4 linked regions of the Homo sapiens genome follow. The protein of the gene in region 1 interacts with the protein of each later gene in a biochemical or structural test. Each region holds a gene or a part of one and is shown on either strand. Other genes may lie near its edges.

Region 1 (7,000 bases):
GTTATCACACTTAGAAAAATGTCATATATTCACTATTAACGTTTTCTTGATTGTCTCATACATCAGTAAAATGTGTTTTTTTTTTTTTTTACTATAACAAGTTCTTTAATGTTTACAAGCGGGTACTGGGAACTTCAATCTTAGAAGTGGTGAAAATAGCAGAACATCTCTTTTTTTCCTCTTTTTAACTATTTAATTTCTAGAACCATTTACAATTATGTGTAGGAGTTAATTTAGGATTTTTGTTGGTATGATTTGCTTGTGGTAGATTTGGGATTACATTATTAACACTTTAGAGTTTGTTTATTGCTGCTAAACATCCTTTAGGATGAATAGCATTAAAGTTTGAGAAATACTTGTTGCTGAATTGTTATTTATAAAAAGGTCTTTATTTTTAAACATAATTTCAGGTAAAAAAAATCTGTAAGCTGAACAACTTGTCCTAATTTATTTTAGTGTCATATTTTCTATTTTTCATTAGCGCAGATGTTGCTTATTTTGAGGCAACTATATTTACATGAAGTGAGTGAGTTGAAAAGAGGGAGTTTTCTGAGATTTGATATGTCGTATGAAATAGCTTCTTTTGGGGCGAACGACTCTCCTGCAAAACTGTGCTAATGGTAGACCCCTCATTTATGGAAGAAAGGGAGGGGGAGGGGTGTGTGTGGCAGTAGGGCTAAGAGTGACCTTTGGGAATGGTAGAAAGGTTAGGGAGTAGTGGGAATTTCAAGGAGATGTTATTTGGACTTGAGGAGAGACATCTTCTTTAAGCATTGAGGAGCCACTGAAAGGTTTTGTTGGAATTGGGGATCCCTGAGAGTAGGGGACTTGATCCAGTTTTTTGGGGATAACTTCTAATTTTCTGTGTCTCTGACAACAGTGGTAAATGGTCTGGTATAGTTGAACAGTATGTAACTTCATCTTAAAAGAAGGAGGTGAAAAACGGGGTGTATTCTGTTTAGAGAAATTTATTTTCACCCTTAGGTTTTTGAGAGACGGATACTCATAAACTTAAAATTGTAAATTTCTCTTCACAAGGTTACATTCAGAGTACCATATATTTATAAGAGAAGTGTCTGGTATGATCAGTGAGGAGAATGATAGTGTGAAAAATTAAAACCAGAAATAAATCAAGTTTGTTTCCATGTTATTTTGGATTTTATTGTTATTTTGTTTTGAGACGGAGGTTTGCTCTGTTGCCCAGGCTGGAGTGCAGTGGCACCATCTCTACTCACTGTAACCTCCGTCTCCCGGGTTCAAGTGATTCTCCTGCCTCAGCCTCCTGAGTAGTTGGGATTACAAGTGCGTGCCATCACGTCCAGCTAATTTTTGTATATAGAGATGGGTTTTCACCATGTTGGCTAGGCTGGTCTTGAACTCCTGGCCTCAAGTGATCTGCACGCCTTGGCCTCCCAAAATGCTGGGATTGTATACAGGCATGAGCCACTGCACCCGGCCTTATTGTTATTTTAAATATTTATTTGACCATTTTTGTGTTCTTGGGGTAACTACTGTTATTTTGCATTTTGTGAGCATGTGATGGCTGGTGTTCCAAATGTCTTGAATAAAAGATTGTCAACCGGACGCGGTGGCTTACGCTTGTAAATCCCAGCACTTTGAGAGGCGCAGGTGGGCGGATCACTTGAGGTCAGGAGTTCGAGACCAGCCTGGCCAACATGGTGAAACCCCGTTTCTACTAAAAATACCGAAAAATTAGCCGGGTGTAGTGGGGGGTGCCTGTAATCCCGGCTACTCAGGAGGCTGAGACAGGAGAGTCACTTGAACCTGGGAAGTGAAAGTTGCAGTGAGCCGAGATTGTGCCATTGCACTCCAGCCTGGGCAACAAGAGTGAAACTCTGTCTCAAAAAAAAGAAAAGAAAAGAAGATTGCCAGCCTGAGGACAATTCTGAGTCTTGGAAGGACTGACAGAGGGGAAATCCGGTAACAGTAACGTGGAAGTCAGGGAGTTTAGAATCCAGCAGGTAAAATGTCTGAAATCAAGGTTCACTCAAAGGAGGGACCATAGATTTTGTGGAAGACTGACCCATTCTGATCTTGTCATTGGAGGAAGGGTACAATGTGGACCTTGGAGATTGAGGACAAGGGTACCCTAGGCCCAAAGACCTTGATGGTAAGGGGAGCTAACGCTAAGAGTTTGCTCATTCGATGCCCATTTGACACTGTGCTCATGTTAGACCCCTCATTTATTGAAGAAAGGGAGGGGAGAGGTGAGGTGTTTGTGTGTGGCAGTAGGGCTAAGAGTGACCTTTGGGAATGGTAGAAAGGTTAGGGAGTAGTGGGAATTTCAAGGAGGTATTATTTGGACTTGAGGAGAGACATCTTCTTTAAGCATTGAGGAGTCACTGAAAGATTTTGTTGGAATTGGGGATCCCTTAGAGTAGGGGACTTGATCCAGATGTGTGTTGGGAAGGAGCTGGTAAAATGGTTGGCCTTGGGCAGTGGTCCAGTGACAGGAGGTGAAGGCCGAGGCGGGATAGTGGCAGTGGTGGTAGAGAGGAGGAGAGGTTGGGGTGGATACTTGGGCATTACTCTTTGCTAGGTTTAACATGTTGAATTCACTCGTTCTCTGCAGGCTTTGGTATGTCCCTTTAAGTGGGTACACGGTTTGCCCACAGTATTAGGAGGAGCTTTGGGATTCCCAGCACTTTGGGAGGCTGAGACGGGCGGATCACCTGAGGTCAGGAGTTGGAGACCAGCCTAGCCAACATGGCAAAACCCCATCTCTACTAAAAATATAAAAAGTAGCCAGGCGTGGTGGTGTACGCCTGTAATCCCAGCCACTTGGGAGGCTGAGGTGGGAGAATCGCTTGAACCTAGGAGGTGGAGGTTGCAGAGAACTGAGATCATGGCACTGCACTCCAGCCTGGGCAACAGAATGAGACTCTGTCTCAAAAAAAAAAAAAAAAAAAAAGGCGGGGGTGGGGTGGTTAAAGTGCTAAAATTGCTTTCGATTGCTCAGTGGTAAAGTGCCATATAGATTGTCTGGCTTTTAAAAATCATTAGGGGCCGGGCACGGTGGCTCACACCTGTAATCCCAGCATTTTGGGAGGCCGAGGCGGGTGGATAACAAAGTCAGGAGTTCAAGACCAGCCTGTCAACATGGTGAAACCCCATCTCTACTAAAAATAGAAAAATTAGCCGGGCGTGGTGGCGCGTGCCTCTAGTCCCAGCTACCCAGGAGGCTGAGGCAGAAGAATTGCTTGAACTTCCCCAGGAGGTGGAGGTTGAAGTGAGCCGAGATAGCACCACTGCACTCTAGCCTGGGTGACAGAGCCAGACTCCTCCAAAAAGAAAAAATAAAATAAAAAAATTTGCATTTTGGAGCAAGTACTTAAACTTTTGTGAGGGATTCTCTAAGTGTTATCTTTTAAGTGTAGCATCTCTCGTTCTTAATTGGAGGTAAAGACATCCACTGGGGCAAAATGAATTTTGTAGAACCAGATGTTTTCATTAGGAGGAGATTGTGTCAGCTGATCTGCCACTGAGAGGCATGTTCAGGCTTGTTCTGAGACATAGATTTCCTTCATGTGGAAGATTCTGGACTTGGACAAGGTGGGAGGAAGCCAGCCCTGTTGAGCAAGCCCTGCTCTCAAAGAGTTTCAACCCTTACTTTCAAAAACTGTTTTACTAACTCAAACATCAAAAGCTCTACAGAAAAGCCAACCACCAAACAAAACCCTGCTGATGATGGGTTTTTAACTCCTTACTGCTTGAAACTTTGTGATAAATGTACATTTATTTGCCTAGCTGCAAACTCAACTCGTATTTTGCCTTTTTTCTTAACCAATATTTTATGTGTGTGTGTGTGTGTGTGTATATATATATATATATATATATATATTTTTTTTTTTTTTTTTTTTTTTGAGATGGTGTCTCGCTCTGTCGCCCAGGCTGGAGTGCAGTGGTGTGATCTCGGCCCACTGCAAGCTCTGCCTCCCAGGTTCAAGCGACTCTCCTGAGTAGCTGGGACTACAGGTGCATGCCACCAAGCCTGGCTAATTTTTGTATTTTTAGTAGAGATGGGGTTTCACCATATTGGCCAGGCTGGTCTCGAACTCGAGTCAGGGTAAAGTTTTTAGACATACAGGGAAAGATGACTAGGAAGAAAATGGAGAAGGCCAAGGTAATCTTATATTTATTACCAGTGACCATTGTGGCAGCAATGGTTGTTAGGTTTTATAATGTTATATCACTGCTCACCAAACAGAATTTGTTCTTTTGTTATGGAGCAGGTTCAGTAATAAGAGTTGGTGAGTATTATTCAGAAGAGAAGCTGCCTCTTGGGTTGAGTAATTAATAAAGTGATTCATTGGGAGGTAGTTTTTGTCTGTAAGAATCTCTAAGGAATGATCACAATGATAAGTTTTAGGACATCCCGTTTTAAAAACTGGACTCTTACAAACTTTGTTATCTAGATAGCATTAGGTATAACTAAATTGGGGAGACAAAAGTGAAAAACGATTAACCATATAAGGGTGGTTTCATGCAGGTACTGTGGATGTGTGCTGGGCCCTGTTCTGAGAGTTAGATACACAGTGGTAAATGAAGCCGATGATATATCTACCCTTATGGAACTCAAGAAAAACAGGGGGATGGACACAAAATGCCAGCTGTGGGATGTCAGTCATACATTCTGTGTTGTCTGCATCTCCCTGGGTTCCCTGCCCAGCACACTTGTGTTCAGACACAATGAATGCACTGACACATGGAAACAGCACATACTGCAATGTGTTCATTTTAAGTGGCTCAACCTCATCAGCAGGGCTTCTCTGTGCTTTAAATTACAGTAAAAACAAATGAAAAGTGAAATGAAAAGGTAGACATATAGAATATCAGTCTACTTTTTTTACTCGTAGAATCAAAAGACATTTTCCCATGTCAAATTGCTGTAAAAGTTTTTGTTTTTGTTTTCTTTTTAAAAAAGTATAAGAAACTCAGGTGATATAAAAGTTTTTATATACTTTTAATTTCAGAAATGATCTTGCTGTGGTCAGCAGACCACACTTTGAGGAACACTGAACTGGCAGGATTGAATTTGTAGCAGGGCTCTTAGTAAACTGTGGGTGGTTGGTGTGTTAGTGAGCTGGAGAATTGAGGACTGTTGTTTGTGCCTAGTATTTGGTTCTCCCACCCTTTGAACATTGGGGAGCTACAGCAGGTGCTGCTTACAGCTTTATGCTTTAGTGCCAAAACGTCTTTGACCCCTGTGCTTTGGAACTGTCTCAGATATGGCTAAATATGAACAAGTTATCCTATTAAATTTAAATAAATGAAAGAAAAACCCCACTTTTACATTATAACTTTAAAAAATCCTTCATATGATAAATAGGGCCTTAACTTACCAGTTATGAATCGATAGTTATAATCAAATGATACTAAAGCGCTCATACCAAAAGTCAGAGTCATCCTGTTCTCCAGAAGCATGTTTTCAGTGCTTTTAGCTGCTACATCTGAAATTTATTGCTATATTTGTAAATTATGTACTTATGTGGCTAGTTCATTTATCAGTTTTATACATTTATTGACGTCCTCTAGCAGTAGTTGTAGTTATTGAACTAGTTAGTTCAATAGTAGTTGAATATTTAACTCCTATACTTGCTGCCTCCCTTAAGTGGGCATACCATAATTTTGGGTTAAAGTGATAGTTGTTTCTTTTATCATGACTATGTAAATACCATTTATATGTGAGCTAAACAGTCTCATACGATTACATTTCCTTTTTTAAACAACACCCCTGCCCCCACATCGCTTTTAGTTTTTCATTTGCTTAGTTTTCTTTGTACCTATCATCACCTTCCTCCTCAGATACCCTAAAAGGTATAACAAATGCCTAACAAAGTTTAGTCTTTATCACATTTTCCAAATGCTTAATTTAACACCACACGTCAGATAATTTATTGTTGCAAGATAACCTGTTGATTTCAATTTTTTCTCCCTGGAGTTTCCTCATAGCTATGCAGGTATGGTTGCCCCTGGACCTGGCATGTAGCTATTATTGTCCTGGAATGTCTGTTTCCTGGATACTGCAGTCTTCCTTTTTGGTTTACTATCTTACTTTCCTGAAGCACATCCTCTAGTAGTTTTAAAAGAAAGGGTATATGGGTATTAAGGTTTTAAGTCCTTGTATGGCTGAAAATCCCTTTTTCTTATCACTGCCTCATCTTCTCTTGTCTGGAACATAACTGCTTTCGATTTCTTTAGGGACTAAATCTCTGGTTTCCTGTGGGTATGGAGTGATGTGAGGCAGTTACCAGACTGTGTAAGGCAGAGAAAGGGGACCTGGGGCTTTCAACCACTAAATATGCAAACTTTCATCAGTTCTGATTTTGGCCTTGCACCTCACTTGGTATTGGTTTATTCCAAATGATGACCTTGTCAGGGTTTTGTAGGTCCAACTGTCTCACTTCTTTTTGGTATCCTTTAGTAGGCACTTAGGTTGTAATTTTTACCTCTTAGTTACTACTCCATCCACTTTTTATTTTATCTTTTTTTTTTTTTTTTTTGAGACAGTCTCACTGTTGCTTAGGCTGGAGTGCAGTGGCGCCATCTTGGCTTACTGTAGCCTCCGCCTTGTGGGTACAAGCAATTCTCTTGCCTCAGCCTCCCAAGTAGCTGGGACTGCAGGTGCGGACCACCATGCTCGGCTAATATTTGTACGTTTAGTAGAAATGGGGTTTGACTATGTTGGCCAGGCTGTTATCGAACTCCTGACCTCAGGTGATCCCCCTGCCTGGGCCTCTCAAAGTGCTGGGATTACAGGCATGAACCACTGCCCCTGGTCTGCCTGTCTGTCTGTGTCTTTTGAGACAGAGTTTTGCTCTGTCCCCCAGGCTGCAGTACAGTGGTGTGATCACAGCTCACTGCAGCCTCAACCTCCTGGGCTCAAGCAAACTTCCCACATCAGCCTCTTGAATAGCTGGGACTACAGGTGTGCACCACCATGTCCAGCTAAGTTTTTTTTTTTTGTTTTTTTTTTTTT
Region 2 (7,038 bases), on another chromosome or scaffold:
TATTCTATGCTCCTTTCATATTTTTTTTTTCCTCTGTCACCCAGGCTGGAGTGCAGTGGCGTGATCTCGTCTCACTGCAACCTCTGCCTCCCAGGTTCAAGCAATTCTCCTGCCTCAGCCTCCCAAGTAGCTGGGATTACAGGTATGTGCCACCATGCCTCATTTATTTTTGTATTTTTAGTAGAGACATGGTTTTGCCATGTGGGCTAGGTTGGTCTCAAACTCCTGGCCTCAAGTGATCTGCCCTCCTCGGCCTCCCAAAGTGCTGGGATTACAGGCATGAACCATCATGCCTGGCCATCCTTTAGTTTTAACAATGAGTGGAAGTACTACGAAGGGGACTTACGAGGCCCATTGACCTTGATGCCTCCTGAAAGAGTTTTAGTTTTGGAATTGCTAAAGATGTAGGAACAGAAGTCTGCTACTTGTTGCACAAATTCAGGGTCCAGCTCTTCATCTTGTAGTTTCTCAAGCTGGGCAAGCTTCCTGCGGTGAATGGGCAGATCGAAGACAAAACATTTTTTCTTTGGGAAGAACTTCCGGATACAGAGTCGGGGCAGATTAAAATTTTTATCTTTTTGACTGGTACCTAGAGAAACATAATAAAGAAATTTGCCTAATATAAGTGTTTCCGTAAAGCGTCAAATAGTAAATATTTTAGGCTCTGCAGGCTAGGTGGTCTCTTTTCCAAGTACTCAACTTTGTTATTGGAGCATGACAACAGCTTTAGACAATATGTAAATGAATGGGCATAGCATTCTTCCCAAAAAACCTCACTTAGAAAGACAGCTGGCAGGCAGAATTGGCCATCATTTGTCTTAGGCTGCAGTTCGCCAGCATTTGGACTAGTACACTGTTCATGTTCAATCTATGTTCTTTAAGTAAATATCCATTGTCCTTCATATTTTACAGGTAAATACAGAATCACGAACCCTACATAAGGAGATAAAATTTACCTAAATTGTAAAATAGGAAAAAATGAAAGAAAAAGAAACTTATTTTAGAACACAGGAGAATATAATTTAAAATCTAATCTATTAATTTAGATATTCAGCAAGCATTCATTCCTTTTTTCCTTTTTTCAAAAAACCTTTTCTATTGCTAATAGCAAGCATTAATTCTTAAGAATAGCAAGCTAGAGATATAGAAAACTGTAAATGTGAGAAAACTATCAATAGTAAACTAAAAAATGATAATTTCTAGTGTTTTGTCGTCCTCATTTATCAATGGTACGTCTCTGTTACCTTGCGTTAGCTTCAGGGAATACTCCAGGTACTCATCTGGTGTGAGGGGTTGTCCATCTGCTTCCAAGTCCAGGGAGAAATCTCTCAGTGTCCACACAAAATCTGGGAAGAAGCTCACAAAGTCAGCTGAATCCTCATTCTCATTCTCATCAGGTGAGGATTTTGATCGGATTCGATGTGTCAGCTCTGTCACATAGCTGAGTAGCTAACTAAGGAAATGTGACAAAATGAACAGGAACCTCATCCCATATTAGTTCAACACATTCCCAAACCTTCCATTTTCCTTTGATCCTAACCTAAGTGTCAATTCTAAAGTGGATACATGGGATCTCTCCTCTGTACTTGCATTATTTTTTGTTTTCTCCTTTTGAGCTTGATTCATCAGGATTCACAGTCAGGCAGCTGGTTTATGAATACAGGTGTCCCCTCTGACCTTGGTGCTGTTCTGGGTCACAAAAGGATACTACAGTTGGTCCATAGCCTGCTGGTTGATGGTTCCCATGCTATTGTACACGAGAGTGCTGCTCAGGAGGACGGCCAGGGTGAAGATCCAGGAGTCATTCTGGTTGTCACCCTGGAAGTCAAGACACACTGGAGTCAGGAGCAAGTTTCATCATCACAGCACTTTCCAGAGTGACAGTAGTAAAAGTATATCATAAGTTAGAGTTTTCTTTTAAGACTAATGACCTATGAAAAGAACCCAAATCCAAACAAAATGATTGTTACTCAGCTGTGGAATGTGTATAGTTTTTTGATTAGTGTTTTTTGGTATACACTGATTCTCACCAGGTCCTCTTATGATCATTGGCAGACAATTGCAAAATAAACATTCAAGGTTAATGGGCATTCTAAGGCCTGAAGTATAATTTAAACTTGCTCAGGCTACTGAATTATAAGTTCTTTGCAGGATAGGACTCGTGACATTGGATTTATTTGTGCTCCCTTTATGCATCTGTGTTAACTCACATAGCTTACAACCTATGGTTAGTAGAATACTGTGTGTTGACCACCATGCTTTGCTAGGATTCTGTCTTATGAATATTTTTCTCACTTCTGGTTGCTAAGTTTGGCCTTATGACATGTACACAGAAATGAAAAGACAAATTATAGTTAAATGCAAACTCTTCTTTAAGAAAAAACTAAATGGTGCTTAAAATATTCAGAGATGAGGGGCTTATTTCAAAATTGAATCTTTGACCCTTACCTTCTTTACATCTCCCAGGCCCTCAGTGTCAAGCAGGACTAAGGTGTGTTCTGGCTTTTTGGGGTGAGGCACACACCACATCCAGATTCCTTTGGTGTGAGATTTCACTGTGGAGCCCAGAGAGAAGCCTGTAAAGGAGAGATGGGATAAGAAGGGCTGGAGGTTTAATAGCAGGTACTTCAGGAAATTGAGGCAAATGTAGCATCATGATTAATGTTAAGAGAGATAACCAAAACCACAATCAGTACTTACGTTACTTATAATCAGAAAAATAGAAAAATTTGAATATCCAGTACATAAATGGATTCAGGACCTTTCATGATAAAAACAATCAACAAATTAGAAATAGAAAAAAACTGAGGAAGGAGAATCACTTGAACCCAGGAGGCGGAGGTTGCAGTGAGCTGAGATAGCACCACTGCACTCCAGCCTGGGCAACAGAGCGAGACTCTTGTCTTAAAAAAAAAAAAAAAAAAAAAAGAGGGATAGAGAAACAGAAAAAAATTACCTCAACAAAACAAAGGACATACATGAAAAATCCACAGCCTGCTTCATACTCAATGGTGAAGACTGAAAATTTTCCTCTAATATGGGAACAAGGAAAAGATGCCCACTTTTGCCACTTCTTTTCCACAAAGTACTAGAGGTCCTATCCAGAGTAATTAGGTGAGAAAAGGAAACAGAAAGCATCTAAATTGGAAAGGAAGATGTAAAATAATCTCTATTTACTGATGATATGATCTCTGCAGAAAACTTTAAATATTACACAGAACTGTTAGAACTAATAAAAAGAATTCAGCAAAGTTGCAGCATACAAAATTAACATGCAGAAATCTGTTGCATTTGTATACAGTAGCAAAGAACAATCCACAAAGGAAATTTTGAAAGCAATCCCATTTAACATACCACCAAAAGGGCAAACTACTTCAGAATAAAATTGGCCAGGCACAGTGGCTCACGCCTGTAATCCCAGCACTTTGGGAGGCTGAGGCAGGTGATCACAAGGTCAGCAGATCGAGACCATCTGGCCAATGTGGTGAAACCCTGTCTCTACTAAAACTACACACACACACACACACAAAATTAGCTGGGTGTGGTGGCGGGCACCTGTAATCCCAGCTACTCGGGTGGCTGAGGCATGAGAATTGCCTGAACCCAGGAGGTGGAGGTTGCAGTGAGCCGAGATTGTGCCACTGCACTCCAGGCTGGTGACACAGCAAGACTGTCACAAAACAAACAAACAAAAAACCCAAAAAACGTAACCATAGAGGGGAATGACTTGTATAATGAAAATTACAAAATTTTTTTTTTTTGGAGACAGAGTCTCACGGTGTCATCCAGGCTAGACTGTGATCACTGATCACTGTAGTCTTGACCTCCCAGGCTCAAGCAATACTCCCACCTCAGCCTCCCGAGTAGCTGAGACTACAGGCACGTGACACCAGGCCTGTCTAATTTTTGTATATTTTGTAGAGATGGGGTTTCCCCGTGTTGTCCAAGTTGGTCTCAAATTCTTGAGCTCAAGTGATCTGCTGGCCTCAGCTTCTCAAAGTGCTGGGATTACAGGTGTGAACCACTGTGCTTGGCCAAACATTCTTAAAAGAAATTAAGGAAGAGTTAAATAATTAGAAAGACATCCTGTAAAAGTGACATACAGATTCAATGCAATCCCTATCAAAATTCCAATGATTTTTTTATAAATAAAAACATCAAAAATATCCACACTAACTTTCATATGAAATTTCAAGAGATCCCCAAATTGTCAAAATAATCTCAAAAAGGAAGAAGAAAGTCAGAGGCTCACAGTTTCTGAGTTCTGAAACTTACTACAAAATCAGGATAATCAACACAGTTTGGTATTGGCTTAAACACTGTTATCAACTAATGGAGTAAAGTAGAGAGCCTAGAAATGAACTCTCACATCTATAGTCAAAAAATTTTCAACATGGATGCTAAAATCATTCAACGCAGAAAGAGGAGTCTCTACAACAAATGACATTGGGAAAACTGGATATTCACATGCTCACATGCCAAAAAAAAAAAAAAAGTTGGACTGTTAGCTTACACAATCCAAAACGTAACTCAAAATGGATCAAAGAACTAACCATTAGAGCTAAAACTATAAAACTCATGGGAGAAAACAAAGGGGAAAAACAGACAGTAAAAGGAAAAACAGATAACTTTGACTTCATCAAAATGAAAAACTTTTGTGCATCAAATGACACTATCAACAGAATAAAAAGGCAACACATGGAATGGAAGAAAACATTTGCTAAACGTGTATCTGATAAGGAATTGATGTCTAGCAAATATAAAGAATTCCTACAATGCAACACAAACAGATTAAAAAGTAAAGAAAGAACTTGAATAGACATTTCTCTAAAGAATGGCCAATAAGCACCTGAAAAGATGCTCAACATTACTAGTCATTAGGAAAATGCAAATTAAAGCCATAGTGAGATACTACTTCACATCCATTAGTATGGTGACTATCAAAAAAAATTGAAAAGGGCTGGGTGCAGTGGCTCAAGCCTGAAATCCCAGCACTTTGGGAGGCTGAGGCAGGTGGATCACCTGAGGTCAGGAGTTTGAGACCGGCCTGGCAAATATGGAGAAACCCCATTTACACTAAAAATACAAAACTGAGCCATGCATGGTGGCAGGTGCCTGTAATCTCACCTACTTGGGAGGCTGAGGTAGGAGAATCGCTTGAACCCGGGAGGTGGAGGTTGCAGTGAGCTGGGGTCGTGCCACTGCACTCCAGCCTGGGTGACAGAGTGAGACTGTGTCTCAAAAAAAAAAAAAATTAAAATAACTGTAGGGAGACCCCGTGAAACTATTGCTATGGAATAAAAGATGAAATGCTCCTGATTATTGTAAATACAAAATTGCATGCAGGATTGTGCAAAGACAGTGCCAGGTTGGACTGCCAGAATGAGCCAACGGGACGTGATGTGCTTCCCCCTGCAGAGAGCCTATGAATGGATGTGCAGTCAGGGAGGTTTCACATCACCAAGATTCCTATCCCAGAAAAGCAGATGTTCATAGCTCTGGGAATGGAATGAGACCCTTGTGGAGAGAGGGGGCACCTGTCCATGTGGATAAGATAGGGCCATAAACGCATTCATCTTGCCATGGCTCTTCTAGGCCTCTTTAGGGTTAAGGCATACTCCCTTCTGAGAATTTCTGGTCTAACCGGTTGTCTAGCTTCACGTCTTGTTTCTATGGATTGTTTGTAACCAGCTTTTGCTGCAACTGTTACTGCTGATTAATATCTTGCTAATCATAGGTTATGAAAGACTGCATTTCTGTTTTAAGGCTCTGTTAGAAATTACTGATGCACACACTATATTGTAAATTCTTATCTCTGTATACTGTACTTCTGCATACAGATGTTATGTTAAAGAATTACTTCATCCCCATGTGACCATCTCACCTCATAATCAAACGACCCTAAATCCCTCACTAACCTTCCCCCACCCTCACTAAACTTAATAATAAATGCTGGCATATCCAGTGCATTGGCAGCACCACGGGACCAGAAGGCTGTGACCCCCCTGGACCCAGCTTTCACTATCTTGTGTGTATCTATTATTTCTCGACCTGCCGGTCTGCCTGGGAACAAAGAGAGAGCCCCGTTGCATTGCAGGCTGCTGGCCAGATCCCGCAATAAATAACAAATGTTGGTGAATATGAAGAGAAATTAGAACCCTTGTGCATTTCTGTTGGGAATGCTAAATGGTGCAGTCACTGTGGAAAATGATACAGCAATTCCTTAAAAAATTTAACATGGAATGACTATATGAGCCATCAGTTCCACTTCTGGGTGTATACTGAAAAGGAGTGAAAGCAGGGACTCGAACAGATATTCAGACACCCATGATCCTATCAGCATTATTTGTAATAGCCAAAAGGTGTAAGCAACCCAAGTGTCAACTGACAAGCGAACAGATAAATTAGTATACACATATAATTACTTAGCCTTGAAAAGGAAGAATTTTTTATTTCTTTATTTATTTTTGAGATGGAGTTTCGCTCTATGCCCAGGCTGGAGTGCAAAGGCACGATCTTGGCTCACCGCAACCTCTGTTTCCCAGATTCAAGTGATTCTCCTGCCCCAGCCTCCTGAGTAGCTGGGATTACAGGCATGTGCCACCATGCCCAGCTAATTTTGTATTTTTAGTAAAGACGGGGTTTCTCCATGTTGGTCAGGCTAGTCTTGAACTCCCGACCTCAGGTGATCTGCCTGCATTGGCCTCCCAAAGTGCTGGGATTACAGCCATGAGTGCCCAGCCAAAAAGGAAAAATTTTGACACATGCTACCACACTGAACCTTGAAGACATTATGTGAATTAGAATAAGCCAGTCACCAAAGGACAAATATTGAATGACTCCACTTATATAACATTCCTAGAGTAGTCAAATTAATAGAGATGGAATGTAGAATTGTGGCAGGAGATGGGTGTAGGTGGGGCTTTTGTTTAATTGGCACAGAGTTTCTTTTGGGGAAGATTAAAAAGTTCTGGAAATAGATGGTAGTGATGGTTGCACAACAATTTGAATTTAATTAATACCACAGAACTACATACT
Region 3 (7,038 bases), about 65 Mb from region 1:
GAGTTTGCAGTAATCTCTGGTCTTTGTCCCCCCTTATTAGTGTAATTGGAAAAAAAATTATTACCATCGTTACATTTGAATCTTCTTTATTTTTCTTTTGCTACTGGAATTTTCTTAGAAACACAATAGGAAGTAAAATAGTTGAATGCGTTGTGATGAAATACGGCTCAGTTGGTGTCCTCCTTTTAATTTTTAAATCTCTTCCTAAGCCATTAACACCAGAGTCAACACAAATACCTTTAAGATGAAGTCAAATTTGCCTCTTCAAGAACCTGTCAGTCCTGCTCTTTCAGGTTGCCAGGGAAGACTTGTGAAAGGCAATCCAAGCTCTCATCTGCCTGGCCTGCCTTTACTGCTTCCTCCCTCCTTCAGATCTTGGGAGTAAGGAAAGGGCCACGTTATAGCAAAAACCTATTTATTTGTCACTTATTTCACTCTTGCTCATCTTATTTGATAAATTCTCTTTTTATTTTTGGTAATGCTCCCCTCCTCACATCCAGTTGAGATTAGGCAGTAGTTCATGGGGGGAAAAAAAGAATGATTAAGATTATTAGTGAGCTTTACATTTGTGAAAGGAATTGGAGAAGGAATACTAATAATATTTGAGAAAAATTTCTGTATGTGAGGCATTGTGCTAGATGACCTCAAAGAAACATGCAGTCTAGTTATTAGTACGATATAACTTGTAGAAGAATCAGAGTGTTTATCATTTGGGGAGAAGGCTAATTTCTTTAGAATAGTGAAGGAGAGGCCGGGCGCGGTGGCTCACACCTGTAATCCCCAGCACTTTGGGAGGCCAAGGCAGGCGGATCGTGAGGTCAAGATATCGAGACCGTCCTGGCCAACATGGTGAAACCTTGTCTCTGCTAAAAATACAAAAATTAGCTGAGCATGGTGGTGTGTGCTGGAGGCTGAGGCAGGAGAATCGCTTGAACCTGGGAGGCGGAGGTTGCAGTGAGCTGAGATCGTGCCACTGCACTCCAGCCTGGCGACAGAATGAGACTCCATCTTAAGAAAAAAAAAAAGAATAGTGAAGGAGAGAAGAGCCAGCAGTGAATGGGGAGAATAGCAGGAGTAAAGAACTTTATGAGTTCATGAGAACCTAAGGCTCAGTATTTGAAAATTACTGACTTATGAGAAAGCAGGCATGTAAATAAAAAATAAAAAATGTTGGCCCTAGATTTTGATATGTGTGTGGTGTGTGGTGTAGGAGAGGCCCTGATATTTACCTGTAAGTGTTAGAGTTGTATGAAAAAGGTGGCAAGATTGAGTAGCTTAGGGCATGTGGTGTGGAGGCTGTATGCTAGAGTTTTGGCATTAATAACTTGTATTTTCTGGGTTTTGGCATTAATAATTTGTATTTTCACTCCCCAAATATTTTTCAAGCATCTACTTCATGCCAGACCTTGTTCTAGATACCGGAGATACAACAGCAAAAATACAGATCTTGCCCTTATGAAGCTTAAATTGTTGAGGCAGGCAGACAGTGATAAATAAATACATAGAATGTTGGGAAAGAAAATAAGAGGATTTGAGAGGGTGGAATGGGGAAGAAAGGATTCACTGATAAGATGCCATTCGAGCTAAGACCTGAAAAGGTGATCTCTAAGGTGAGGAAAGAGCTTTCTACACAGAAGGAACAGCTGGGGGAAGGGAGCACGCTTGGAATATTTAAGGAATATCAAGGAGGGAAAAGTGGCTAGAGTAGAGGAAGAGAATGGAAGAAGTCATGTCAAACAGGTACTAATGGAAGAAGTCATGTCAGACAGGGTCTTGCCCATTGTAAGGACTTTGGCCTTATACCTCAGCAAGCTGAGCAGCCGTCGGAATGTTTTAAGCAAAAGAGTGACACCATCTTTAAAAGGGACCCCTTGTAAGGATTCAGAACAGACTTGGAGGGAAAACAAGTAGAAGCAGCAGGGGGACTAGTTAGGAGGCTACTTTAATAAATCCAGGCAGAAGATGAACTAAGGTGGTAGTGATAAGATATGTGAATATGTATTTGATACGTATTCAAAATACAGGATTCTGAATACATTTTTAAAGGTAGAGCCAACAAGATGTGCTAAAGGATAGAATGTGGGGTTTGAGAAAAAGGGGAGTCAAAGATGACTTAACAGTTTTTAGAGGGCCAGGTGCAGTGGCTCAAAACCTGTAATCCTGTAATCCCAGTACTTTTGGGATTGAGGCTGAGGCAGGAGGATCACTTGAGTCTAGGAGTTCAAGACTAGCCTGGGCAACATGGCAAAACCCCATCTCCAGAAAAAAAAATTTTTTTAATTAGCCGGGTTAGTCCCAGCTACTTGGGAGGCTGAGGTGGGAGGATTGCTTGGGCCTGGGAGGTTGAAGCTGCAGTGAGTCATGATCACTCCACTGCACTCCAGCCTGGGCGACAGAAGGAGACCCTGTCTCAGAAAAAAAAAAAAAAAAAAAAAAAAAAAGTGCAGCCTGGGCAACATGGTGAAGCCCCATCTCTACAAAAAATTCACAAAGTTAGCTGGGTGCGTTGGCATGCGTCTGTGGTCCCAGCTACTCGTGAGGCTGAGATGGGAGGATTGCTTGAGCCCTGGAGATCAAGGCTGCACTGCGTTATGATCATGCCCCTGCACTCTAGCCTGGGTGCCAGAGTGAGGCCCTGTCTCAGAACAAATCAATCAAACAAACAAACAAACAAAAATACATGGATATAGAGAGAATGAGCAGCCTCATAGGACAGCTGAGAAGATTTACTGAGCTTTTTAATGGAAAACATAAATACTTAAAATGAGTTTGTCTTTATTATTGTGACTATTATTTATAATTATCACAAAAGGCAATATGGCAGAGACCTGGGTTTAAAATTCTTGCTTTAAAACTTACTATTGTATTTTACGCCTAAAATACATATTTGCCGTAATTCTGATCTCTCAGAGCCTTAGTTTTCTCATGTGTAAGTTAAGGATAATAAATTACCTTGTGAGAATTAAATTAAGATAATTTAAAGTACTTAGCAGAGGCATGGTACATAAGATAAAGTAAGTGCTTAATAAATGGTTGCAGATGCATGATGCTAAACTTTTGCTCTCGGTTATCTCCTCATCCCCAGAGAAAAGCATAATCTTCAGTCATGAACTTTTCTGAGGCTGGAGCATACAAGTGCCATCCTGAGGCCATGCAGTGTAATATTCTGGGTCTGACCCAGGCACTAAGAGATATTTAATGGGAGTGAATGGTTGCCTTCAGTGTCAGCCTCAGAACATTGAGGATATACTTCAAGTGTATTTGCTTTCCTTTTAATAACCCAGTAGGTATCTGTTACCTTGAAATTCATATAAACTTTTCTGAATGTGTTTATCTTAACTTTGCATTACATCATGGGTAACAAATTGTGTAAATTTACTAACCACATTATGAAATGAATCCTACATTTTATTTGGCTCTTTAAGCCACTTCCTTTACATGTGGAGCAGGTGAACTCCATTGTCATATGGTATAATTTTGTCAGCAGGTTCATTTTTCATTCTACTCATATTCTTGATAATTTCATAATCTTTATATTTTAGAAAGGTTATAGAGGCTTTAATCTTTTAAAACGTATCCTATTATTTGTCTCTTCAGTTCAGTGTTTCTCAACCTTAGCTATAATCTTAGAATAATCAGAGGGAATGAATACTAATTCCCTGGACTCTACCCCAGATCAATTAAATCAGAATCTTAGGAATGAGGACCCCTAGCATTAGTATTTTTTGAGCTCCCCAGTATACAGCAAGGATTGAGAACCACTGCTTTAGTTGTTTTTTTCTGTTTTTACATTATCTATAAAAGTTTGGTGATTTCAACACTTTTATTAGTATTCCCTATATGGATGGCTTTTTATAGAATTTGGGATATAATTTCTTTTTCCATTGTTCTTTCTGATGATAGCATTTTATTTTTAGGCAGTAGAATATTATAATTTGAATCACCTCCTTCTGACTGAGATGTAATGACAGAGTAATCTTTGAGCTGGAATGAACTTTGGAAATAATCAGCTCAGTTAGGTAAAGTGAGGTTCAGAGGGAGGCTGAATGACCAAGAATGAAATAGGTTTTGTACAAGCTGTCACTTACATCTCCAGATATCTTTACAGTTTTATTTTTTCATATTTTTTGTCTAGGGGCCAGGCTAATCATCTGTATCATTCCAATTTGAGTATATGTACTGCTACAGCCAGCACTCTTTACAGTTTTCTTTAAAGCCCTTTCAGATACACTGTACCATTTAAACTGTACAACCTTCTGAGGTAAGCAGAGCCACACTGATGCTTATTTATTTATTTTTTTTAGATAACAGGCATAAAGATTTTACTGTGTTTTACTGCTTTCTAGCTTATTTTATTGGTTGCATTTAAGATTTTCTCTGTCTTTGGTGTTATGTAGTTTCATTATGATGTGTCACAGTATAGATTTCTTTTTCTTTTTTTGAGATGGAGTCTAGCTGTGTCGCCCAGGCTGGAGTGCAGTGGCACAATCTCGGCTCACTGCAACCTCCGCCTCCTGGGTTCAAGCAATTCTCCTGCCTCAGCCTCCCGAGTAGCTGGGACTACAGACGCCCGCCACCATGCCCTGCTAATTTTTTGTATTTTTGGTAGAGATGGGGTTTCACTGTGTCAGCTAGGATGGTCTCTATCTGACCTCGTGATCCGCCCGCCTCAGCCTCCCAAGTGTTGGGATTAGAGGCGTGAGCTACCACACCCAGCCTATATTTCTTTTTATTTTGTTTGGGACTTCATTAGACTCCTTGAATTTGTGGATTGGCTTCTCATTAGTTCTGCAGATTTCTCAGTTGCTATCTTGTTAGGTTTGTCCTCGATTGCATTTTCCTTTCTTCTCCTTTTGGGTTTTTGATTACATGATCTTAGGGCTTCTCCATTATCTGCTCTGTATTTTCCATCTTTTTATCTCTCCATGCTTTATTCTCGATAATTTATTCTGACTTATTTTCCAGTCTGTGAATGACATATCTTCCACTCCATTAATTTTCTCTTCAGTTGAGTCTGATTTGTTAAAACCATCCACTGAATTTTTAGTTTTGGTTATTGTTGAAGTTCATTTTGGTTTCTTTTCAAATCTGCTCGGTCATTTCTTAAAAAAATATTGTTCTGTTCTCTGCAGGTATTTTCAGTGTCATCTTTAATTCTTTAAACATAGTAAGTAGTTATTTTTTAGTTAGTGTCTTTGCGTTTCCTTTATCTGAGGTCTTAGAGGTGCCTTTGTGTGGTCTGTTGTCTCTGCTGGTTCTTGTTCATGACGACGTGTTCCCTTGTATCCTTAGTTTACCTTTGTGTGCCGCCTGCTGTCCTTGAAAAACTGTGAGACTAGACAGGCACGGTGGCTCATGCTTGTAATACCAGCACTTTGGGAGGCTGAGGCGGGCAGATCACCTGAGGTCCGGAGTTCAAGACCAGCTTGGCCAACATGGTGAAACCCCGTCTCTACTAAAAATATAAAAATTAGCCAGGTGTGTTGGCACATGCTTGTAATCCCAGTTTCTCAGGAGGCTGAGGCAGGAGAATCACTTGAACCCAGGAGGCGGAGCTTGCAGTGAGCCAAGATCGCGCCACTGTACTCCAGCCTGGGCAACAGAGTGAGACTGTCTCAAAAAAAAAAAAAAAAAAAAAATTAGCTGGGCGTCGTGATGGGCGCCTGTAATCCCAGCTACTCGGGGGGCTGAGGCAGGAGAATCACCTGAACCTGGGAGGCAGAGGTTGCAGTGAGCCGAGATTGCACCACTGCAATCCAGCCTGGGCAACAGAGACTCCACCTCAAAAAAAAAAAAAAAAAAAAAAAAAAAAGACAAAAAGAAGAACTATGAGACTAATCTGAGCTCTCAAATAAAGGTATCTTCTTCAGAAAGGTTTTTTTTTGTTTGTTTTTTGTTTTTTACATTTCCTTCTGGTAGATGTCTAGAGTTATTACCAGTCTGGGGCCACTTTATTTTTTATTTTTATTTTTTGAGATGGTCTTACTGTCACCCAGGCTGGAGTGCAGTGGTGTGATCTTGGCTTACTGCAACCTCTGCCTTCCAGGTTCCAGCGATTCTTGTGCCTCAGCCTCCGGAGTGGCTGGGACTATAGGTGTGCACCACCACGCCTGGCTAATTTTTGTATTTTTAGTAGAGACGAGGTTTTGCCATGTTGGCCAGGCTTGTCTTGAACCCCTGGCCTCAAGTGATCTGCCCGCCTCCGCCTCCCAAAGTGCTGGAATTACAGACGTGAGCCACTGCCAGGCCTGGAATCACTTTAAAGTAAATGCATTACTTAAGATGTTTGGGCCACCCAGCTGATGTGAATTTTGGTTGTGAATACATTTGAGGGCCAATATACTTCTGTTTTGTCTTTGCTTTGAAGACATAAGCCCTTTAGGGATCTAGCTAAATGTGAGGTATATCACCTATTAGACTGTCCACTCTGGAGGGGTAGGGTGTTTGATTTTTGCTCCTTGAGTCCTGCAAGGCTGTTTGTTGTGATTGGTCAATATCCTAAGGGCAAAAATGGCTTTTTGTTCCTTTACCTCACTGGGTTCCCATTTTCCCTTTTATTTTGGCCAGATAATTCCTTCCTATTTTTGTGTTGCTTTTAAGAAAATTGTGAAAATATTTTGTCCAGAATTTTTGGCTGCGTTCAGTAGAAGAATTGTTGTGGGGCACCATAACTGGAAACTGAATTCTCTTATTTTACTTTCAAAATCTGACAAATAAGAATGGCCCTACTAATTTTTGGGGGAGAAATAATGTTGACAGACAGCACTTCTTTATCAAGAGATGTGCCTATTTAGTCCTGAACTTTATTTCAAATCTACTTTTCTTTGAATGGTAAAGGGAGACCTACAGTTTTTCTCCAAAATCTTGATAACTGAAGCAGAGTTTAAAACAAACAAAACCCTTTGCTATGCAGTCAATGAAAGGTGTTTGAAAGTTCAGATAATCTGGATAGAGTCCCCTTTGCCCACCTGCTATCTCCTTGATGTCAGCTATACTTTTGATTTGCTAATGTGTGTAGCATCCAGGTTTCAATTCTGG
Region 4 (7,038 bases), about 96 Mb from region 1:
AAATTGCTGTGAAGAATAGATATGACTTTTTATTTATGTATTTGCATTTTCAGGCAGTTCTGCCTTGAGCTAAATGGACTTGCTGTCAAACTTCAGGTAATATTTTCTTTAAGTCAAAGTTATAATTGAAAGTTCTGATTTTTTTTTCTCTGTTTTTATAACTTAATGTGCTTACAAAAACGTATCCACATTTCTAACTTTCTTCTAGAATTTATTATGGAAATATAGTAACCTAAATGATAAGCTTTTTCATTATTATTTTACATATTAAGAAATATAATTATTTTTAACAGAGTGAATGCCATCCAGATACTTGCACTCAAATGACAGCAACTGAACAATGGATTTTTCTTTGTGCAGCTCATAAAACTCCAAAAGAGGTGAGGATTTATGAAATAGAGTAACTAATAAAATTATTATAGCCTAAATCTCTCTCAAGACAATGTTAGACAAGTTTTTAGGGTTTTTAGTTCACTGTTCATTTTGCTATTTCATTTTGAGTTGCTTGTTGTGAAGTTGTTACTGCAGTGCTATTTTAGGATTTCTTATGATAAGCATCATTTTTCATAATTGGGCAATTACATGGGCTAGAACTCACTTCATGATCCACTGGCTATTACGGATTAACATCTGTCACATTGTGCTGATATCTACTGTGTAATGATTGAGATACGCCTGTTTAGGTTTTTGTTCAGATTATTTCTTTTGATAGGAAGAACTATTGATTACTCTGATGCCTAGTTTAAGTAGAAATGTTACTTTTGAGCTTTTAAATATTCATGTTGTTTTTCTCCTTATTTAGTTTTTGTCAAGGTAAGACTATAGGCAGTAGCAGTTTTTTGTTTTGCTCTTTTTTTTTTTTGAGATGGATTCTTACTCCGTTGTCCAGGCTGGAGTGCAGTGGTATGATCTCGGTTCGCTGCAACCTCTGTCTCCGGATTCAGGAGATTCTCATGCATCAACCTCCCAAGTGGCTGAGATTACAGGCATGCGCTATCATGCCGGGCTAATTTTTATATTTTTAGTAGAGATGGGGTTTTGCTATATTGGCAAGCCTGGTCTCAAACTCCTGACCTCAAGTAATCTGCCCACCTCAGTCTCCCAAAGTGCTGGGATTACAGGTGTGAACCACTGTGCCTGGCCTACTGTACTTTTTCTTATTTAAAAAATTTCTTCATATCATCTGATACCCAGTATACTTTTCCTTAGTTGTCTCCAAAATGGTCTTTACATCTGGGTTGTTTATGCATTGCTTTTCCCTTAATCTGTATTCCCATTTAATCTGTTATAATTACTTTTTACTTGACACTGACTCACTGGGGATATTGGGTTAGGCCAATTCTGTAGAATCATAGACCTTGAAGTGGTCATTATATTGATAGACTTCTAAGGCTTGAAGACAAGTGAGGCCCTAGTTGCAAAATCAATATCTGATGTTTTTTGTTTCAAAAAGGACAAATGCTCCAAAATAAGGAGTATTTGATACCTAAGAGAATAGTACTTATTTGGAAGACTGGTTTCATTCAGGATGTCACATTTTTATGTTAATTAATTGAAGCAGTATTAAGATTGTATCTGTCGGCCGGGCGCGGTGGCTCACGCCTGTAATCCCAGCACTTTGGGAGGCCGAGGCGGGCGGATCACGAGGTCAGGAGATCGAGACCATCCCGGCTAAAACGGTGAAACCCCGTCTCTATTAAAAATACAAAAAATTAGCCGGGCGTAGTGGCGGGCGCCTGTAGTCCCAGCTACTTGGGAGGCTGAGGCAGGAGAATGGCGTGAACCCAGGAGGCGGAGCTTGCAGTGAGCCGAGATCCCGCCACTGCACTCCAGCCTGGGCGACAGAGCGAGACTCCGTCTCAAAAAAAATAAAAAATAAAAAAAATAAAAAGATTGTATCTGTCTACATCTGGGAAAATCCACATAGTGGTTTCATTGATAATTCACTGAAGTTGGCTACTTAACGTAGTGAATGATGTGATTATTGCAATTAGGAAACTGAATCAAGAAGGCTGAATCAAGGCTAGTTTTGTTTTGGCAAATAGTAATGATGTATTATTCTTTCTTTAGAGTGGAAGTGATATCCAGTTTGTGATGTGTTATGACTCTTAAATATACTGTCATTCTCATATCCACTTCTTTCTTGATTAATATTAAATGACAGGATAGTCATTAGCATTAAGACCTGTAAATTGAGTCTTAGAATTGCAGCATTGCTTGCTGAAGTCCAGATCTGTTGAACTGGCCATGTGTCAAGGGAGGGTGATAGTAGGATTTCCAAGTGGTAGTTATATTGAGTGGAGTTACTGTAAAAATACAAACAAAAGAACAATTTGAAAGGACACTTTCTGAACTGTTTTTGAATAACTGCTTAGTCAGGAAACTATAGGAACTGACAAACTAAGCTAAGAAAATTGCTCTCATGGATTAAAATCACTAGGGAGATTCTGAAGTGGGAGCAGCAGAATACTTAGCACCAATAATCATTTATTCAGTATCCTTGAGAATTAAAGAGAGGCATTCAGCATATAGAGTAAATTATACAAATAGTGCTTCTAGGCGACAAACATTATAACTTACTGTCTACAAGCCCTCACAGTCACATGCTGATTGTGATCACTTGCAGTAGCATTATGATTATATATTTGGAAAAATATAATACATAAAAATTTGTAAACACCATTACATAGTATTTTGTAACCTGCTATATTTTGCCATTTTTTGCTGTTATAACTGTTACAGAGTAGGAATAGTTACCTGAGAATTAACTGGGGGAAGGTGAAGGGAAGGCAGCTAAAAACAATGCAAAATGTCATCCAAATTAAAAATTCAGAAACCAGTTAAAGGTCTAAAGATACAGTGATGTGGTAACCCATGAGCCCCATGTAGCTGTGTAGCACTTGAAATGTGGGTAGTCAAAATTGAAATATGCTGTAAACACAAAATAAATACTGGATTTCGAAGACAGTAACGCCTGTAATCCCAGCACTTTGGGAGGCCGAGGCAGGTGGGTCACCTGAGGTCAGGAGTTCGAGACCAGCCTAGCCAACATGGTGAAACCCCATCTCTACTAAAAATACAAAAAATTAGCTGAGTGTGATGGGTGTGCACATGTAGTCCCAGCTACTAGGGAGGCTGAGGTGGGAGAATCACCTGAGCCCAAGGACTCAAGGTTGAAGTAAGCAAAGATCACACCACTACACTCCAGCCTATGTGACAGAGAGAGACCATGTCTCAAAAAAAGATTCAGAAATGGCCAGTAAGCACATGAAAAGATGCTCAACATTAGTTATTAAGGCACATCTCAAAACCACAGACAGTTGGTGCGAGGGTTGTGCGTTATTGTTATGCTGATTAACATTGTCTCCTCCACAACCATGCTTGATAAGGGAAAAAAAAAAACCACCGTGAGAATGGAGAAACAAAATGTAGCATGGACATACAATGAAATATTATAAAACCATGAAAGGGAATGAAGTTCTGATACATGCTACAACACAGATGAACCTTTAAAATCCAGTATGTATTATGTGGAGTGAAACAAGTCAGATGCAAAAGGACAGATACTGTAGCATTCCACTTATCTAGAGTGAATAAATTCATATAGACATTTGAAGGTAGGTAGAAGCTGCCAAAGGATGGGCGGTATGGGAAGTTAGTGCTTAAGGGTAATAGACTTTTTTCTTTTCTTTTCTTTTTGAGACAGAGTCTTGCTCTTTTGCCCAGGCTGGAGTTCAGTGGCGCAATCTCGGCTCACTGCAACCTCCGCTTCCCAGGTTCAGGCGATTCTCCTGTCTCAGCTTCCCAAGTGGCTGGGATTTACAGGCATGTGCCACCTCGCCTGACTAATTTTTGTATTTTTAGTAGTGACATGGTTTCACCCTATTGGCCAGGCTGGCCTCGAACTCCTGACCTCATGTGATCCGCCCACCTCAGCCTCCTAAAGTGCTGGGATTATAGATGTGAGCCACTGCGCCCAGCCGAGTTTCTTTCTTTTTTTTTTTTAAGAGACAAGAGTTTCGCTCTGTCGCCCAGGCTGGAGTTTCACTCTGTTGCCCAGGCTGGAGTGCAGTGGCACAATCTTGCCTCACTGTAGCCCCCACCTCCCAGTTTCAAGCAGTTCACTGCCTCAGCCTTCTGAGTAGCTGGGACAACAGGCGTGCACCACCATGCCAGGCTAATTTTTGTATTTTTAGTAGAGACGGAGTTTCACCATGTTGACCAGTTTGGTCTCAAACTCCTGGCCTCAAGTGATCCACCTGCCTTGGCCTCCCAGTGTGCTGGGATTATAGGCATGAGCCACCATGCCTGGCCATAATAGTTTCTGTTTGAGAGTTGGAAACAGTGAAGATGGTTGCACAATATTGTAAATTAATGCCACTAAATTGTACATTTAAAAATGGTCAAAATAGCTGTCTGGGCGCGGTGGCTCACGCCTGTAATTCCAGCACTTGGGGAGGCCAAGGCGGGCGGATCACGAGGTCAGGAGATCAAGACCATCCTGGCTAACACGGTGAAACCCCATCTCTGCTAAAAATACAAAAAATTACCCGGGCGCTGTGGCGTGTGCCTGTAGTCTCAGCTACTTGGGAGGCTGAGGCAGGAGAATGACGTGAACCCTGCAGACGGAGCTTGCACTGAGTGGAGATCACATCACTGCACTCCAGCCTGGGCAACAGAGTGAGACTCCGTCTCAAAAAAAAAAAAAGGGTCAAAATGGAAAAATTTGTGGTGTATATATTTTACTACAATTTTTTAAAATGTTAAGAAAAAAGCATCAAAACCCCAAATGGCATATACTTTCATACCCACTATAATGGCTAAAATAGGAAAGATAGACAATAACAAGTGCTGACGGGGATGTGAAGTGGAACCCCTAAACATTGATGATGGGATTGTAAAATGCTTCAGCTATTTCAAAAAACAGTTTGGAAGTTCCTTAAAATGGTAAGCATAGAGTTGCATACGACCCAGGAATTCCACTCCTTGATATGTAGTTCCCCCAAAATGAAAACATTTATCTGCACAAAGACTTGTACATGAATATTCACAGTCACATTATTTATGATAGCCAAAAAATGGAAACAACCAAATATCCATCAACTGATGAATGGATAAGCAAAATGTGTTGCAGCCATCTCTCAGTAGCCTCAGAGGATTGGTCCCAGGACCCCCATGAATACCAAAACCACAGATACCAAAGTCTCTTATATAAAATGGCATAGTATTTGCATATGACCTATGCACATCCTCCTATATACTTTAAATCATCTCTAGATTACATATAATACTGAATACAATATAAATGCTATATAAATAGTTGTTATACTGTATTTCTTAATTTGTATTATTTTTTATTGTTATGGGGTTTTAAAGTGTAGTTTTGATCTGCAGTTGGTTGAATCTGCAGATGCAAAGTGCTGACTGTATGTGTACAATGGAATAATATTCAGCCATGAAAAGGAATGAAGTCTTAAAGGGAGAAACATACAGTACGGCATTTTGTATATATTAAAAACATTAAAGGCTAAAAAGTTTTGAATTTTAAAAAAAGGAATGAAGTACTGATTCATACTACACCATGGATAAGCCTTGAAAACATAATAGAAGCCAGACACAAAATGCCACTTATTATATTATTTCATTTTAATGAAATATCCAGAATAGGCAAATCCTGTGAAACAGAAATTAGGTTGGTTGTTGCTTAGGGCTGGGGGAAGGAGAGAATGGGAAGTGACTGCTAATTGGTTCAAGGTTTCTTTTTGGGATGCTGAAATGTTCTGAAATTTAGTGGTAATGGTTGCAGAATTTTGTGAATATACTAGAAACTACTGAATTTTTAAGAGTAAATTTTAGTTGTATCAATTATATCTTAAAAGTCAAAAAGTAGCCCATTAATTTTATATCAATTACCTGCTGAAATGGTATTATTTTGGATATAGTGGGTCAAACTACAATATTAAAATTAATTTCACCTCTTTCACGTTACCTTTTTATTTTTTATTTTTTAATTTTTATTTTTGAGACGGAGTCTCACACTCTTGCCCAGGCTGGAGTGCAGTGGCGCGATCTTGGCTCACTGCAAGCTCCGCCTCCCGGGTTCTTGCCATTCTCCTGCCTCAGCCTCCTGAGTAGCTGGGACTACAGGTGCCTGCCACTGCGCACAGCTAATTTTTTGTATTTTTAGTAGAGATGGGGTTTCATCGTGTTAGCCAGGATGGTCTTGATCTCCTGACCTTGTGATCCACCTGCCTCGGCCTCCCAAAATGCTGGAATTATAGGCGTGAGCCACTGCGCCCGGCCTCACGTTATCCCCTTTTTAATGTATCTCTTAGAAAGTTAATTAATTAATTTTTTGAGACGAAATCTTACCCTGTTATCCAGGCTGGAATGCAGTGGCCTGATCTTGGCTTACCTCCCTTGACCTCCTGTGCTCAAGCAATCCTCCTGCCTCAGCCTTCTTGGTAGCTGGGACTACAATCATAGTGCCACCATGTCTGGCTAATTTTTCAAATTTTTTGTAGAGATAGGGGCATTTCCCTGTGTTGCCTAGGCTGGTCTTGAACTCCTGGACTCAAGTGATCTTCCCACTTTGGCCTCCCAAAGTGCTGGAATTACAGGCGTGAGCCACCACATTGGGCCTAGAAAATTTAAAATTAAATATATGGCTTGCATTATACAGTTGACCCTTGAACAACTCCGGGATTGGGATCCCAACCCTCTGTGCAGCTGAAAATCTGAGTATCTAACTTTTGACTCCCCCAAAACTTAATTACTAATAGCCTACTGTTGACTGGAAGCCTTACCGATAACAGTCGATTAACACACATTTTGTATGTTCTGTGTATTATATAGTGTATTGCAATGAAGGAAGCTAGAGAAAATGTTATTCAGAAAATCATAAGGGGCTGGGCGTGATGGCTTATGCCTGTAAACCCAGCACTTTGGGAGGCTGAGATGGGAGGATCGCTTGAGGCCAGGAGTTCGAGACCAGCCTGGTCAACATAGTGAGACCTTCTTTCTTTCTTTTTTTTAAAG

The links.
Region 2: the proteins of MAP4K4 (region 1) and GBP3 form a complex in vitro, tested with the Homo sapiens proteins (one study listed by BioGRID and IntAct).
Region 3: the proteins of MAP4K4 (region 1) and STRN form a complex in vitro, tested with the Homo sapiens proteins (one study listed by BioGRID).
Region 4: the proteins of MAP4K4 (region 1) and MOB4 form a complex in vitro, tested with the Homo sapiens proteins (one study listed by BioGRID).

Annotation. Positions count from the first base shown.
Region 1 is NC_000002.12:101,700,707-101,707,706, forward strand, and holds part of MAP4K4 (mitogen-activated protein kinase kinase kinase kinase 4), read left to right. Parts: intron 1-7,000.
Region 2 is NC_000001.11:89,012,839-89,019,876, forward strand, and holds part of GBP3 (guanylate-binding protein 3), read right to left. Parts: intron 2,577-7,038; coding exon 2,449-2,576; intron 1,819-2,448; coding exon 1,709-1,818; exon of another isoform or gene 1,593-1,708; coding exon of another isoform or gene 1,567-1,592; intron 1,442-1,566; coding exon 1,245-1,441; intron 590-1,244; coding exon 347-589; intron 1-346.
Region 3 is NC_000002.12:36,956,519-36,963,556, reverse strand, and holds part of STRN (striatin), read left to right. Parts: intron 1-7,038. UniProt on the Homo sapiens protein: Calmodulin-binding scaffolding protein which is the center of the striatin-interacting phosphatase and kinase (STRIPAK) complexes.
Region 4 is NC_000002.12:197,540,058-197,547,095, forward strand, and holds part of MOB4 (MOB-like protein phocein), read left to right. Parts: intron 1-53; coding exon 54-96; intron 97-293; coding exon 294-380; intron 381-7,038. Other genes in the region: HSPE1-MOB4 protein, read left to right, coding at 54-96, 294-380.